Regions from separate parts of the Homo sapiens genome. Here regions 1 and 2 are each linked to region 3. Evidence: fine-mapped expression QTL. A gene starts in region 3. Each other region holds a variant in brackets. All regions are shown on one strand. Distances are from middle to middle.

The links. PIP is the estimated chance that this variant, and not a neighbour inherited with it, causes the effect.
Region 1: its variant is fine-mapped to the expression of ST7L in lung (TOPMed, PIP above 0.99). The same link has a PIP of 0.9 or more in fibroblasts, lymphoblastoid cells, monocytes and whole blood.
Region 2: its variant is fine-mapped to the expression of ST7L in lymphoblastoid cells (CAP, PIP 0.95).

What each region holds. Positions count from the first base shown.
Region 1 is chr1:112,538,703-112,543,025 of GRCh38, reverse strand. It overlaps ST7L (suppression of tumorigenicity 7 like), which reads left to right. Exons shown (of 15, transcript NM_017744.5): 14 at 936-1,075. Among named protein-coding and RNA genes, the nearest start is that of WNT2B, 32 kb to the right of the region's middle. The variant G/A (reference allele first, on the strand shown) is at 2,209.
Region 2 is chr1:112,571,142-112,575,431 of GRCh38, reverse strand. The region is part of intron 11 of ST7L (suppression of tumorigenicity 7 like); the gene reads left to right. Among named protein-coding and RNA genes, the nearest start is that of ST7L, 46 kb to the left of the region's middle. The variant TG/G (reference allele first, on the strand shown) is at 2,083.
Region 3 is chr1:112,617,242-112,621,241 of GRCh38, reverse strand. It overlaps ST7L (suppression of tumorigenicity 7 like), which reads left to right and starts at 2,101. Exons shown (of 15, transcript NM_017744.5): 1 at 2,101-2,333. The coding sequence starts at 2,129. It overlaps CAPZA1 (capping actin protein of muscle Z-line subunit alpha 1), which reads right to left and starts at 1,410. Exons shown (of 10, transcript NM_006135.3): 1 at 1,359-1,410. The coding sequence starts at 1,397. RefSeq lists enhancers at 1,128-1,577, 730-1,929, 2,038-2,137.

The DNA of each region.
Region 1 (4,323 bases), 78 kb after region 3:
GAGTTTGAGACCAGCCTGGCCAACATGGCAAAACCCCTCTCTACTAAAAATACAAAAAAGTAGCTGGGCGTAGTGGCCTGTGCATGTAATCCCAGCTACTTGGGAGGCTAAGGCACAAGAGTCACTTGAACCTGGGTGGCAGAGGTTGCAGTGAGCCGAGATCATGTCACTGCACTCCAGCCTAGGCAACAGAGCGAGACTCTTCTTCTTCAAAAAAAAAAGTAGCAACTCAAATGTATTTATTTATTTATTTATTTATTTATTTATTTATTTATTTAGAGACAGGTCTGTCACCCAGGCTGGAGTGCAGTGGAATGATCATAGCTCACTGCAGCCTCAAACTCCTGGGTTCCAGTGATTTTCCCATCTCATCCTCCAGAGTAGCTGGACCTACAGGCACACACCACCATGCTGGGCTAATTTTTAAAATTTTTAAAAATTTTTAAGCACGATTTTGCTTAGGTTAGTGTCGCATGCCTGGCTTTAAGCGATCCTCCTCTTTGGCCCCCCAAAGCGCTGGGATTACAGACGTGAACCACCACCTGTGGCTGCAACTCACATTAAGCACTTAAAATGTTCATCATTACAACTCTCCATAGCAACTTCTAGAGGGTTTAGCAACTTATTCAAGATCACATAGCTAATAAGTGACAAAGCTTTTTTTCAAAATCACCTCAGCATGATTTTGTAATCAATATTCTTTCCCATGACGCCATCCTGTTCCCACACCCAGCACAGTTGTCTGGCTATTTAGATATGCTGTTGATGCTGGGATAAATAATGGATAACTGTCTTCTACCTTGCTTAGCCAGAGACTTTCCTTTTTAAATTTTTTTTCTTTTTAATTTTTAAAAACAGATTTCATTTGAAAAGATTAAGACTTGTTTACATGTTATTCTGAAATAAAATTGATTCTTACCTATTCTCCATTGCAGCCTTTCATCATGTTTCTGTTTACCCAAAAAAGGAGCTTCCTTTGTTCATCCATTTCACAGCAGGATTTTGCTCTTCTACAGCAATGATAGCCATTCTCACTCACCAGTTTCCTGAAATCATGGGTATTTTTGCTAAAGCTGTAAGTATGATCTCAAGGACTTGTGTAGATTATTTGTAAAACACACAAGAAACCATCTCTGATCTGCCTGTGCTAACCCAGCTGAACAATGGAAGATATTTGTTGTAAATTAAAGGAATTGATTTGTATATAGTTGCTGCCATAAATACATCAAACATAAATTTTTGGTGATTTGAGCTACTTCTGTTGCTTAAAAGTTTAAAGAATACAATATAAGATTGTAACAATATAACATTATAAAGTTTGCTCTTATAGATCACTTTTGGTGATAAACAGCATTTGTTACTATCTTTGGTATTTTTAAAAATACCCTATTTTGTAAACAAACCCTTTGATTTTTTTCATTTAAATGAAATCATTAGTTCTCAGGATTTGTTGAACTTTAAACTCAAGAGCACAACTAGGATGGATAATAAGTACATAAGGCGGGGGAACAGATGGGACATTTGTCCCTAGGTACAGAATGTGCCTATGTCTCAAAGGTTCTCCAAGTTATTGTGTCTGCTTGTTCTTACTTCCCCAGACTTGGATATAGAACCATGTGTAGTTCTATATTTTCATTTTTACCCTTTAGTTTTGAACTACTTCCCCATTTCCTGAACCAGTTAACACTTGAGGACTGATACTAGAGTGGGTATCCCATCACTATTTACTTTTTTTTTTTTTTCTGAGACAAGGTCTCGCTGTGACCCAGGCTGGAGTGCAGTGGTACGATCTCAGCTCACTGCAGCCTCCGCCTCCTGGGTTCAACAGTCCTCCCGCCTCAGCCCCCCGAGTAGCTGGGACTATAGGCACATGCCACCATGCCCAGCTAATGTTTGTATTTTTTGTAGAGGCAGGGTTTTGCCATGTTGCCCAGGCTGGTCTTGAACTCCTGGGCTCAAGTGATCTGCCCGCCTCAGCCTCCCAAAGTGCTGGGATTACAGGCATGAGCCGCCATGCCCAGCAACTATTTACTTTTCTATATGAACTTATTAATGTCACTGGCTCAAAGTAAAATTAGCAAAGATAATTGCCTTTAAGTCTCCAAGCCTTTTTAAAAATGCATCTTTCTTGTACATCTTTGCATTTCTACCAGGTAGTAGGAGTTAAAACCCAAAAAGAAAATGCTGATTAATTATATTCCCAAAAAT[G/A]AAAACACTGAGAACCATGGAAAAACTAGTCCTTACTTGGTAATGTATTTTCTGTATTTTTCTCTATATGCCTCCATTCTAACTTGTTTCCTCACAGTTTCTTTTTCTGCCTTAAGAATAGTTTATTTTGTGCCTTAAAGATTAGTTGGCTTTTTTCTGGCACCAGTGGTAAGAGCAGTGGTTTCCCTTTTTCCCTGAAGGTCAACCATATAATGTGTTAAGTTGCCACTGGCTGTAGGCCTAGGAGTCTGAGTCTGCACTTGATTCTGGGTCAAACTTCAAGAAGAATGACTTTCCACTGTTGTTCAGGGAGTATAGCTATTTGGTTTGGAAACTGACTATTCTATTTCTTTTCAGTGTAAAATGAACACTTAGTGATCATACTCATAACTGTTATTTGCAGTAGTGCTAATAGTTGAGTGAGTGCATCTCAAACTGAAATGACCTTACTATGTAATCTGGCATCGAATAAAAATGGCCTAGAAAGAGAATTCCATCCATTTAATAGCTGGAAAGAAAATGTGCAACTGTGTATGTGAGATCACAGGCAAGCAATGGGAGAGATGATTCTTGGATTTGTCTCAGGCAAGTGGAGTGGGAAGGAAGTGAAATAGAGCAAGGAGGGAGATCTAGAATCTGGAATAGATCTATACCAACTGTTAGTAGTATATTTCCATGGGGTGCAAGCTACAATTAATGTTTATAGTGTCTGCCTTTACCTAGGCAGTCACTAATGGCACCAGAAGAATCTTTACGATTACATAGCATAAGTTCCTTAGCACTCCTCTAGTAGAGACTGAGAATGAATAATTACATATTTTAAATGGAAGCTTCTTTTTCAGACCAAAAGTTATTGATATACTGCTTTTCTAGTTGATGGATAATAAACAAGCATTTATTTTGGTATCTGTATAGGTGATGGTATATAGTGTTAAGAATGTGCCTAATGGTAAACTTTTACAGCCACATTTTTATCCCTGTGGCCTTTACATGTACATTTTAAAACCCTAAAAGCTAAGTATTTACTGAAAGTTCCTGCAAACCAATATTTGTGCAGGATTTCCAAAGGCAGGTTCCATTTAAGAGTTAATGGGAAATGACTGTGGTATGGGCAGTTTCCAGCTTTCTTTTCTTTTTCTTTTTCTTTTTTTTTTTTTTTTTTGAAACAGAGTCTCGCTCTGTCACCCAGACTAGAGTGCAATGGCGTGATCTCAGCTCACTGCAACCTCCGCCTTCTAGGTTCAAGCAGTTTTCCTGCCTCAGCCTCCCACATAGCTGGGACTACAGGCACGTGCCACAACGCCCAGCTAACTTTTGTATTTTTAGTAGAGATGGGGTTTTGCCATGTTGGCCAGGCTGGTCTCGAACTTCTGACCTCAAGTGATCAACCCACCTTGGCCTCCCAAAGTGCTGGGACTACAGGCGTGAGCCACCGCACCCGGCCAGTTTCCAGCTTATAAACACAATGTGTAGATGCCTTTATAGACAGACAAACAGCAAGGGAACTAAAGGCTTAAATTACACTTCTTCACCACTTCACAGTGTTTGCTCTATGCAGTAGGAGCATCACCATCACCCAGGAGCTCATGAAAAATGCATAACTTCAGGCACCATTCCAGACCTTCTGAATCAGAATCTACATTTTAACAAGATCCCCAGGTGATCCTATATATACATTTAAAGCTTGGAGAAACTTGCTGTACTCTACCCCCAATAAGAGGAATTTAGAACAGCTCGATAGTGCTGCCTTGTCAAGGTGGAAAAGAGGCAGCATTGCAGAGTCATTATGAAATAGATTCTGGAGGCAGGCTGCTTTGCTTTGAATTCTAGCCCTGAAACAATGCTGTACAACCTCGGGTTAGTTACTTAACCTTTTCTACCCTTAGTTGTAAAATGAGAATAATACTACCTCTCATGGGTTTTGGTGAGCGTTAAATGACTTTAAAATATGCAAGTGTTAGGACTATGTCTACCCACAGTAAAAACTAGGTGAGTGTTAGCTGTTGTTGCTACCTTTATTGTCATCATCATCACCAAAGTGCAATAGTGGGAAACCCTACCCCCTTCTTGTTTAAAGGAGATATGTCCTAACAGTCAGCTCAAAATGCATTTTTC
Region 2 (4,290 bases), 46 kb after region 3:
TTATCATTAGTTATTGTTATTAGTCTCTTACTGTGCCTAAATTATAAATTAAATTCTATCATGGGCATATATTTAGAGGAAAAAACATGGTGTACGTAGGGTTTGGTACTATTTGTGGTTTCAGATATCCACTGGGAGTCTTAAAACATATGTACTGAGGATAAGGAGTGAGTACTGTAAACTTTTATTTTTCTTTAGACAGAGTTTTGCTTTCGCCCAAGCTGGAGTACAGTGGCAGAATCTTGGCTCACTGCAACCTCCGCCTCCAGAGTTCAAGCGATTCTTCTGCCTCAGCCTCCCAAGTAGCTGGGACTACAGGTGCGCGCCACCACGCCCAGCTAATTATTTTGTATTTTTAGTAGAGACGAGGTTTCACCATGTTAGCTAGTATGGTCTCGATCTCCTGACCTTGTGATCCGCCCGCCTCAGCCTCCCAAAGTGCTGGGATTACAGGCATAAGCCACCGCGCCCAGCCTTGTAAACTTTTTATTATGAGTTCTACTACACATGCAGCAAAGTGTATGAGACAAAAATGTGCATCTTAATGATTTATTACAAAGTAAATGCTTGAAAACTATCGAGATCAAGAAACAGAACATTATCAACCCACAGACGCCTACCTGACTGCCCTTTCCCATTACAACCTCCCTTCCTACCTAAAGGTAACCACTATTCTTATTCATTTGTATTCTTATTTATTAATTATGTTTATTTCCTCCCTTTATGTTTTTTATCTGTACTTTTTATTTATGGATTTTTTTTCTTTTTTTTTTGAGACGGAGTCTTGTTCTGTCGCCCAGGCTGGAGTGCAGTGGCGTGATCTAGGCTCACTGCAAGCTCTGCCTCCCGGGTTTATGCCATTCTCCTGCCTCAGCCTCCCAAGTAGCTGAGACTGCAGGCGCCCGCCACCACGCCTGGCTAATTTTTTGTATTTTTAGTAGAGACGAGGTTTCACAGTGTTAGCCAGGATGGTCTCGATCTCCTGACCTTGTGATCCGCCCGCCTTGGCCTCCCAAAGTGCTGGGATTACAGGCGTGAGCCAGTGCGTCTGGCTTTTTTTTTCTTTTTAAGACAGACTCTTCAGCTATTCGAGAGGCTGAGGCAGGAGAATTGCTTGAACTCAGGAGGCAGAGGTTGCAGTGAGCCGAGATAGTGCCATTACACCGCAGCCTGGGTGACAGAGTGAGACTCTGTCTCATTAAAAAAAAAAAAAAAGTCCGGGCGCAGTGGCTCACACCTGTAATCCCAGCACTTTGGGAGGCCGAGGTGGGTGGATCGCCTAAGCTCAAGAGTTCAAGACCACCCAGGGCAGCATGGTGAAACCCTGTCTCTACTAAAAATACAAAAAAATTAACCGGGTGTGGTGGGGTGCGCCTGTAGTCCCAGCTACTTGGGGGGCTGAGGCAGGAGAATCACTTGAGTCCTAGAGATGAAGGTTGCAGTGAGCCGAGATCGCACCACTGCACTCCAGCTTGGGCTACAGAGTGAGACTCCGTCTCAAAAAAAAAAAAAAAAAAAAAACAGGAAAAGAAAAAACGAAGACAGGGTCTTGCTCTCATGCCCAGGCTGGAGTGCAGTGGTGTGATCTTGGCCCACTGCAACCTCCACCTCCTGGGCTCAAGCGATCTGCCCGCCTCAGCCTCCCAAAGTGCTGGGATTACAGGTGTGAGCAAACATATGCCTGGCCCTGGATTTATAAATGAGTTAAAGAGTGGTCCCTGTTTATTTATTCTGTGGAATAATTTGTATAAAATTAGAATTATTTCTGCCCTAAATGATTAGTAAATTTGTTATTAAAGCCATCTGATTCTTCAGTTTTCTTTGTGAGAAGACTTTGAGTTACAAATTTCATTTCTTTAATAGTTTAATTACAAATTCAATTTCTAAGCATATCATAACTATTGAAATTTTTTGTTTCTTCTTATGTTTTTGTTAAGTTGTATTTTTCTAAAAATTTATTTCATCAAAATTCTCAAATGTATTGACATAAGGTATTCATAAAATCCTTTTATTGCCATATTAGTATTTGCAGCATTAGTTGTAATACTCAATTTTTAATTCTTTTTTTTTTTTTTTTTTTTT[TG/G]AGAGGGAGTTTTGCTCTTGCTGCCCGGGCTGGAGTGCAATGGCGCGATCTCGGCTCACTGCAACCTCCACCTCCCGGGTTCAGGTGATTCTCCTGCCTCAGCCTCCTGAGTAGCTGGGATTACAGGCATGCGCCACCATACCCAGCTAATTTTGTATTTTCGGTTGAGATGGGGTTTCTCCATATTGGTCAGGTTGGTGTCAAACTCCCAACCTCAGATGATCAGCCCGCCTCGGCCTCCCAAAGTGCTGAGATTACAGGCATAAGCTACTGCACCTGGCCCCACTTTTTAATTCCTAACCTTGGCTAGTTTTATTTTTCTTGATCAGGTTCTTTAGGGATTTGCCAATCTTACTTGTTTTTGCCAAGAACTTGGCTCTGGCTTTGTTGGGTTTTTTCTACTATTTATTTTCTGGTTCATTCATTTCTGCTCTTTATTGCCTTCCTTCAACTTAATTTGAGTTTATTTTATTTTAATTTCCTGTGTCTTCTCACATAGGTACTTAACTCTGTAATTTTCGTCTTTCTTCTGATATACCCAGTTAAATCTAGAAACTTCTCTCAACACAATTTTAACTGCATACTATAGCAACATTTTTTACATAATTTAGTTCAAAATATTTTCTTTAAAAAAAAATAGAGACAGGATCTCCACATGTTGCCCAGACTGGTCTTGAACTCCTGGCCTCAAGCATCCTCCCTCCTCAGCCTCCCAAAGTGCTGGGATTACAGGTGTGAGCCACCTCCCTTGGCCCAAAATATTTTCTAATCTGTTTATAATTTCATCTTTGATTTAGAGTTATATTTATTCCATGAAGGTAGATATAATAAACAAAAGATTTTCTTCAAATTTTTTTTCTTCTTTTTCTTTTTTCTGCTTTGCTCATGTTGAGAAACAACAGATTTCCAAAGTAGATGAAACAGCCTTCTATTGGAAGAAGATGCCAACTAAGACTTTCATAGCTAGAGAGGAGAAGTTGTTCCTGGCTTCAAAGCTTCAGAGGACAAGCTGACTCTCTTCTTAGGGGCTAATGCAGCTGGTGACTTTAAGTTGAAGCCAGTGCTTACTTACCATTCCAAAAATCCTAGGGTCTTTAAGAATTATGCTAAATCTTCTCTGCCTGTGCTCTATAAATGGAACAACAAAGCCTGGATGACAGCACATCTGTTTATAGCATGGTTTAAACACTATTTTAGGCCCACTGTTGAGACCTACTGCTGAGACATGATTCTTTTTAAAATATTACTGCTCATTGACAATGTACCTAGTCACCCAAGAGCTCTGTTGGAGATGTACAAGGAGATTAATGTTTCCACACCTGCTAACACAACAGCCATTCTGCAGCCCACAGATCAAGAAGTCATTTTGACTTGGAAGTCCTATTATTTCAGAAATACATTTAGTAAGGCCGTAGGTCCCATATATAGTGATTCCTCTGGTGGATCTGGGCAAAGTAAATTTTATATGTCATGGGAAACCAAAAAATTTGTGTGACTTGCTTTATTTTGATATTTGCTTTATTGCAGTGGTCTGGAAGTGAACTTGCAATATGTCCAAGATATGTCTATAGTTACAAACATGAATTTTGGGATATATAAAGTATGCTTCATTAAAACTATATAGGCTGGGCGTGGTGGCTCACACCTGTAATCCCAGCCCTTTGGGAGGCCGAAGCGGGTGGATCACCTGAGGTCAGGAGTTCGAGACCAGCCTGACCAACATGGAGAAACCCCATCTCTACTAAAAATACAAAATTAGCCAGGCCTGGTGGCACATGCCTGTAACCCCAGCTACTCAGGAGGCTGAGGCAGGAGAATCACTTGAACCTGGGAGGTGGAGGTTGCAGTGAGCCAAGATCATGCCATTGTACTCTGCCTGGGCAACAAGAGCGAAACTCTGTCTCAAATAAATAAATAAAACTATATAGATATATAGATAGATAGATATACATACACACATATACACTTTAACATTTTAATGTCATTTTTATTTATAGGTAGAAATTTACCCATTTTCCCCTCAACTAAATATCAAAGCAGTTGACAATTCAGCTATTTCAAAATATCCAGCTAAGTGAGTGATGCTATAAACTTATATTATTGTTTGTAGATAGACCCTTTAAGCCGAGTGTTATGAAACACAATAATTATTAAGGTTTTTTTGAAGAATTTGGTTTTTTTGAGACAGTCTCGCTCTGTCATCCAGG
Region 3 (4,000 bases):
AGTAACTATTTGCCTTAGAACAATTTATTATAGATCGATTTCCAGCATAGGCTTATACATAAATGTTTTTGTCCTAAATCTTAAACATGTATGAAGATCAGTTTCCAAATAAGAGAAAATCTAACGCTGTTGTCAATGGCTTGTTAAACATTTCAAAATGGCATGCCATATCTACATATATCAAGTTATTCCGTACAGAGGACTTATGGATCATAACAGTCCCCTTCCCATCCCAACTTCTTATTGAAAAAAACACCCAGGTAGATTTACAGAGCACTCAAGGGGACACATTTTCTAATAGCCACAGTGGGAGACAAATGTCATAATTCTTGTCCAATAAGTTGCCTTGTGAGGTCATTCTAAGTTCTACGTGCCCTAAAACCATGTACTTACTGAAAAGCCTGACAAACTGTTATGAAACTGTGCAACTGTCAGAAGAAAAGTTATTCCACCTTAGAATGTGCTCTTGTATTTAAGACCCTTTTCAAGAAATGAGCATACAAAATGCACACTGACAAATTCAACTGATCAAAGACTCCACAGTGGAGCATCAAAGAAGGCAGGATGCTTTGTTCAGTCTTGAACGTGTTAACATAAGGTTTATTATGTGTTACAGAAAACCTTTCTGGAGGTTAAGAAAATCCATCAGCTATTCTAGATTTGTTAACAAGAAACAAAATTTTCAAAAATTATCGTTAAAAGGGATGTGTCTATAGGGAAAGACTGGTGTTCAAATTCTGAAGCAAATGCCCTGAGGCTCACAGATTTATTATAGCGAATCAGACAGGCGACAGTACAGGAGAAAAGTAGTGCATGTGTAGGGAGATGGACAACATTTGGGACCTCTCCTTGTCGAAGAGTCGTGACAGCAAAATCACTTCCTGAGGAAGGAGGAGCAAAAGGGAAGTTAAGAGGCCATCCTGACCAGGAAGTGACTCGCCCTAAACTAACCCCAATTATATCTACAAATGGGGGGATGGGGTGAGCCCCAACTGCTAAAGGCGGTAAAATAACTGCTTTTTGATATGTCGCAACATAACCACCACCCTCTCGCAAAATTACAGAAAAAAGTCCACAGTCACGATCCAATAAAGGAAACGTCTGTTCCCTTGCAGGGAGGCCCCTGGGCTGTGCCTCAGGCCTGAGAGAAAAGGAGAGTCGAGGAACGAGGAACTGGGGCCACCGTGAGGCAGAGGAAAGCCCCCTAAGAGGGAAGCGTCCCGACTGCGGAGAGCGTATGTCAGCATGGACCAAGAAGCTTCTTTTTCCTGGGGACACTGCTAGGCTCCCAACGCAGCCGGGCCGGGCCCCAGTTCCCTGTCGGGGGAGGAGGTAAGAGAGAGAGGCGGACCCCTTACCTTCTCCTCATCCGACACACGATCATCGAAGTCGGCCATCTTGGGCTGTTCTGGCCCAGCCCGGCTACGGGCGCGAGGCAGGCCGGGAAGAAAGCCGAGTGATGGAATCACCGCGGCGGCCGTCGGAAGGACCCGCCCGGAAACGCCGACCAAGAGGGCCCCATGTCAGTTATGCGCGGGAGTGACGTCTCCTAACGCCAGCGCCCGCGCCCGCGCCCCAGGAAGTAGGGTTTGCCTTAGGTGATTTGAAGTCTAATATCTTTCCCAATGAGTTACACTCATTTCCCATCCATCTAATGGGCGCTGGCAGCGTGTTTCGATTATTCTTGGCTTCTGGCCTCCATCCGACCAAATAGCTGTTGCTACTCCTACAAGTTTTTCTGGTGCCCGTTATCTCCACGACAGCCGAATCCAAAGCTTTAAGAGCTGCTCGGCAGCTGGAACGATCGGTGGCTTTTCCAACCCCGGGGGGGGGGCGGTGTGAAAGGTGACCCTCATTTCGTTTGGAAGCGGTAACACTTCGGGGTCACATCTCAGTCCAGTTCCTCCAGAATAGGCGCTGCTGTCCGCCCCTTCCCTGCCCCACGAAAGAACAGGTAGCCCCAATCTTGAGACACGCTCCTCCACCTTCGAAATCTTCTCGGTCCCGGTTCCCCAGGACTCAGCCTTCACAGAGGCCAACTTCAGGTCCGCCACTATCCCAGGATTCCCGACTCCCGGTTTCCTGTCCTTCTCCCCTCCCAGCTCCTGGCGCCTGCGATAGCGGCAAGATGGCGGACCGTGGCGGCGTGGGTGAAGCCGCAGCTGTTGGAGCGTCTCCTGCATCTGTCCCTGGCCTAAACCCGACGCTAGGCTGGAGGGAGCGACTGCGGGCCGGGCTGGCGGGGACTGGGGCCTCGTTGTGGTTCGTGGCGGGGCTGGGGCTGCTTTACGCCCTGAGGATCCCTTTGAGGCTGTGTGAGAATTTGGCAGCGGGTGAGAGGACCAGACCTCCTGGGGCAGGGCGGGGGGCCAGGAGAGATGTCGGGGGCAAGAGCCAAAGGGCAAGAGATTCTCGGTAGTCCTAGAGGGCCTCTGAGGAGTCGATGATGAGCGATCAAGTGAGTTCTTTTTCTTTTGGGCTGCAACCTTGCAGTTGATTGACAAGCCTGCTGCCGTTACCGGCTCCTCCGTAGAACTCTTAAGGTCCGCCCTCTCTCTTATGTCCTCGTTTTTCCATGGAAAAGCCACCTGACAAGCTATAAGCTTCAGGTATTAGGACAGAAGAGTGTCTCAGATTAGGATACGTAATTTATATTGGCTCCCCCACCTCTGGTAGGATCCCTTAAAAGTCACTACTTTGAGTCTCCCGCTGCCCAGCTGAAAGAACTCATATCCAGGCAACAAAGATGAGCACATCTGTAATTTAAAGATTTCAGAGAAAGAAAATGGCATGATTTTAATTGAGGATTCTCTTGTTTTAAAATAGTTCTGTTAAGAAATCGTTTTCGTGATAGTTTTGTCTGTTCTTTTAGGCTTATCTTGAGTAATAAAATAGTACAGGAAGTGAGAGCGCCACAAACAACAGTGGGTTTGCTAGTTCTTTCGACGTCTGTAGAACACTTGCTACGTATTCTGTGCTGACAATACGAACACATGTAAGAAGTGATGATCCTGATGGATTCTCATATACTGTACTATTCTTTAGCTGTAGACAGGATGAAGTGTTTAGGGCCCAGGTCCCCTTACCATGTGATTATATTTCACTCAAGATCTGAGCAGCAACCTCAGAACAAGATATAAGTATTTCCATTACATGATTCAGTATGGTGGTTGATTTTTCTGAAGCAAAAGGCAGCAAATGTCCCCTTTCCTGTTCAGAGATGACATGAAAGACTGTGAGTTAATGTTCGGAAATATTTTGGTTTTTTTGGAGGATAGGTATCAAGTTCAAATATAACTAGCACTCTAAAATAAGCTAAACTGAAGAGCTAATTTGGCATCTCTGTAACAGGTGAATGAAGTGCTTAACGGTGGTTTCTATGCACAGTGTTACTGATTGACTTGTCATTTATTTTTCTACGTTAACCATATGCAACATTTAGATGAGAATAGTTGATTACTATAGATTTTTCTTTTTTACGTTTCGTGTGTGTGTGTGTGTGTGTGTGTGTGTGTGTGTGTGTGAGAGAGAGAAAGACAGACAGAGTCTCCCTTTGTCACCCAGGCTGAAGTGTAGTGGCAAGATCACTGCAGCCTTGAACTCTTCTGCTTAAGCGATCCTCTGGCCTCAGCCTCCCAAGTAGCTGGGACTGCAGGCGTGCACCACCACGACTGGCTGAGTTTTAAATTTTGCGTAGAGACTGGGTCTATTTTATTTGCCCAGGCTGGTCTTGAACTTCTGGCTACCAGTGATCCTCCTGCCTTGGCCTCCCAAAACTCTGAGATTATGGGAGTGAGCCATCCTACCTGGCCAGATTTTTATTTTCTTTCTAAAACCCACAGTACTTATGAGATAATTATTTGAAGTGAAAAATCTGCTCCAGGATTTCAGTAACTCAGGGAGATTTCTGTTTGTTGCTTTTCTCTTTGAGCCATTTTGCCTCTCTAGCTGATATACCAAATACATATGCTGTTTCCTTCCCTCTAATTTGAGACAGTGG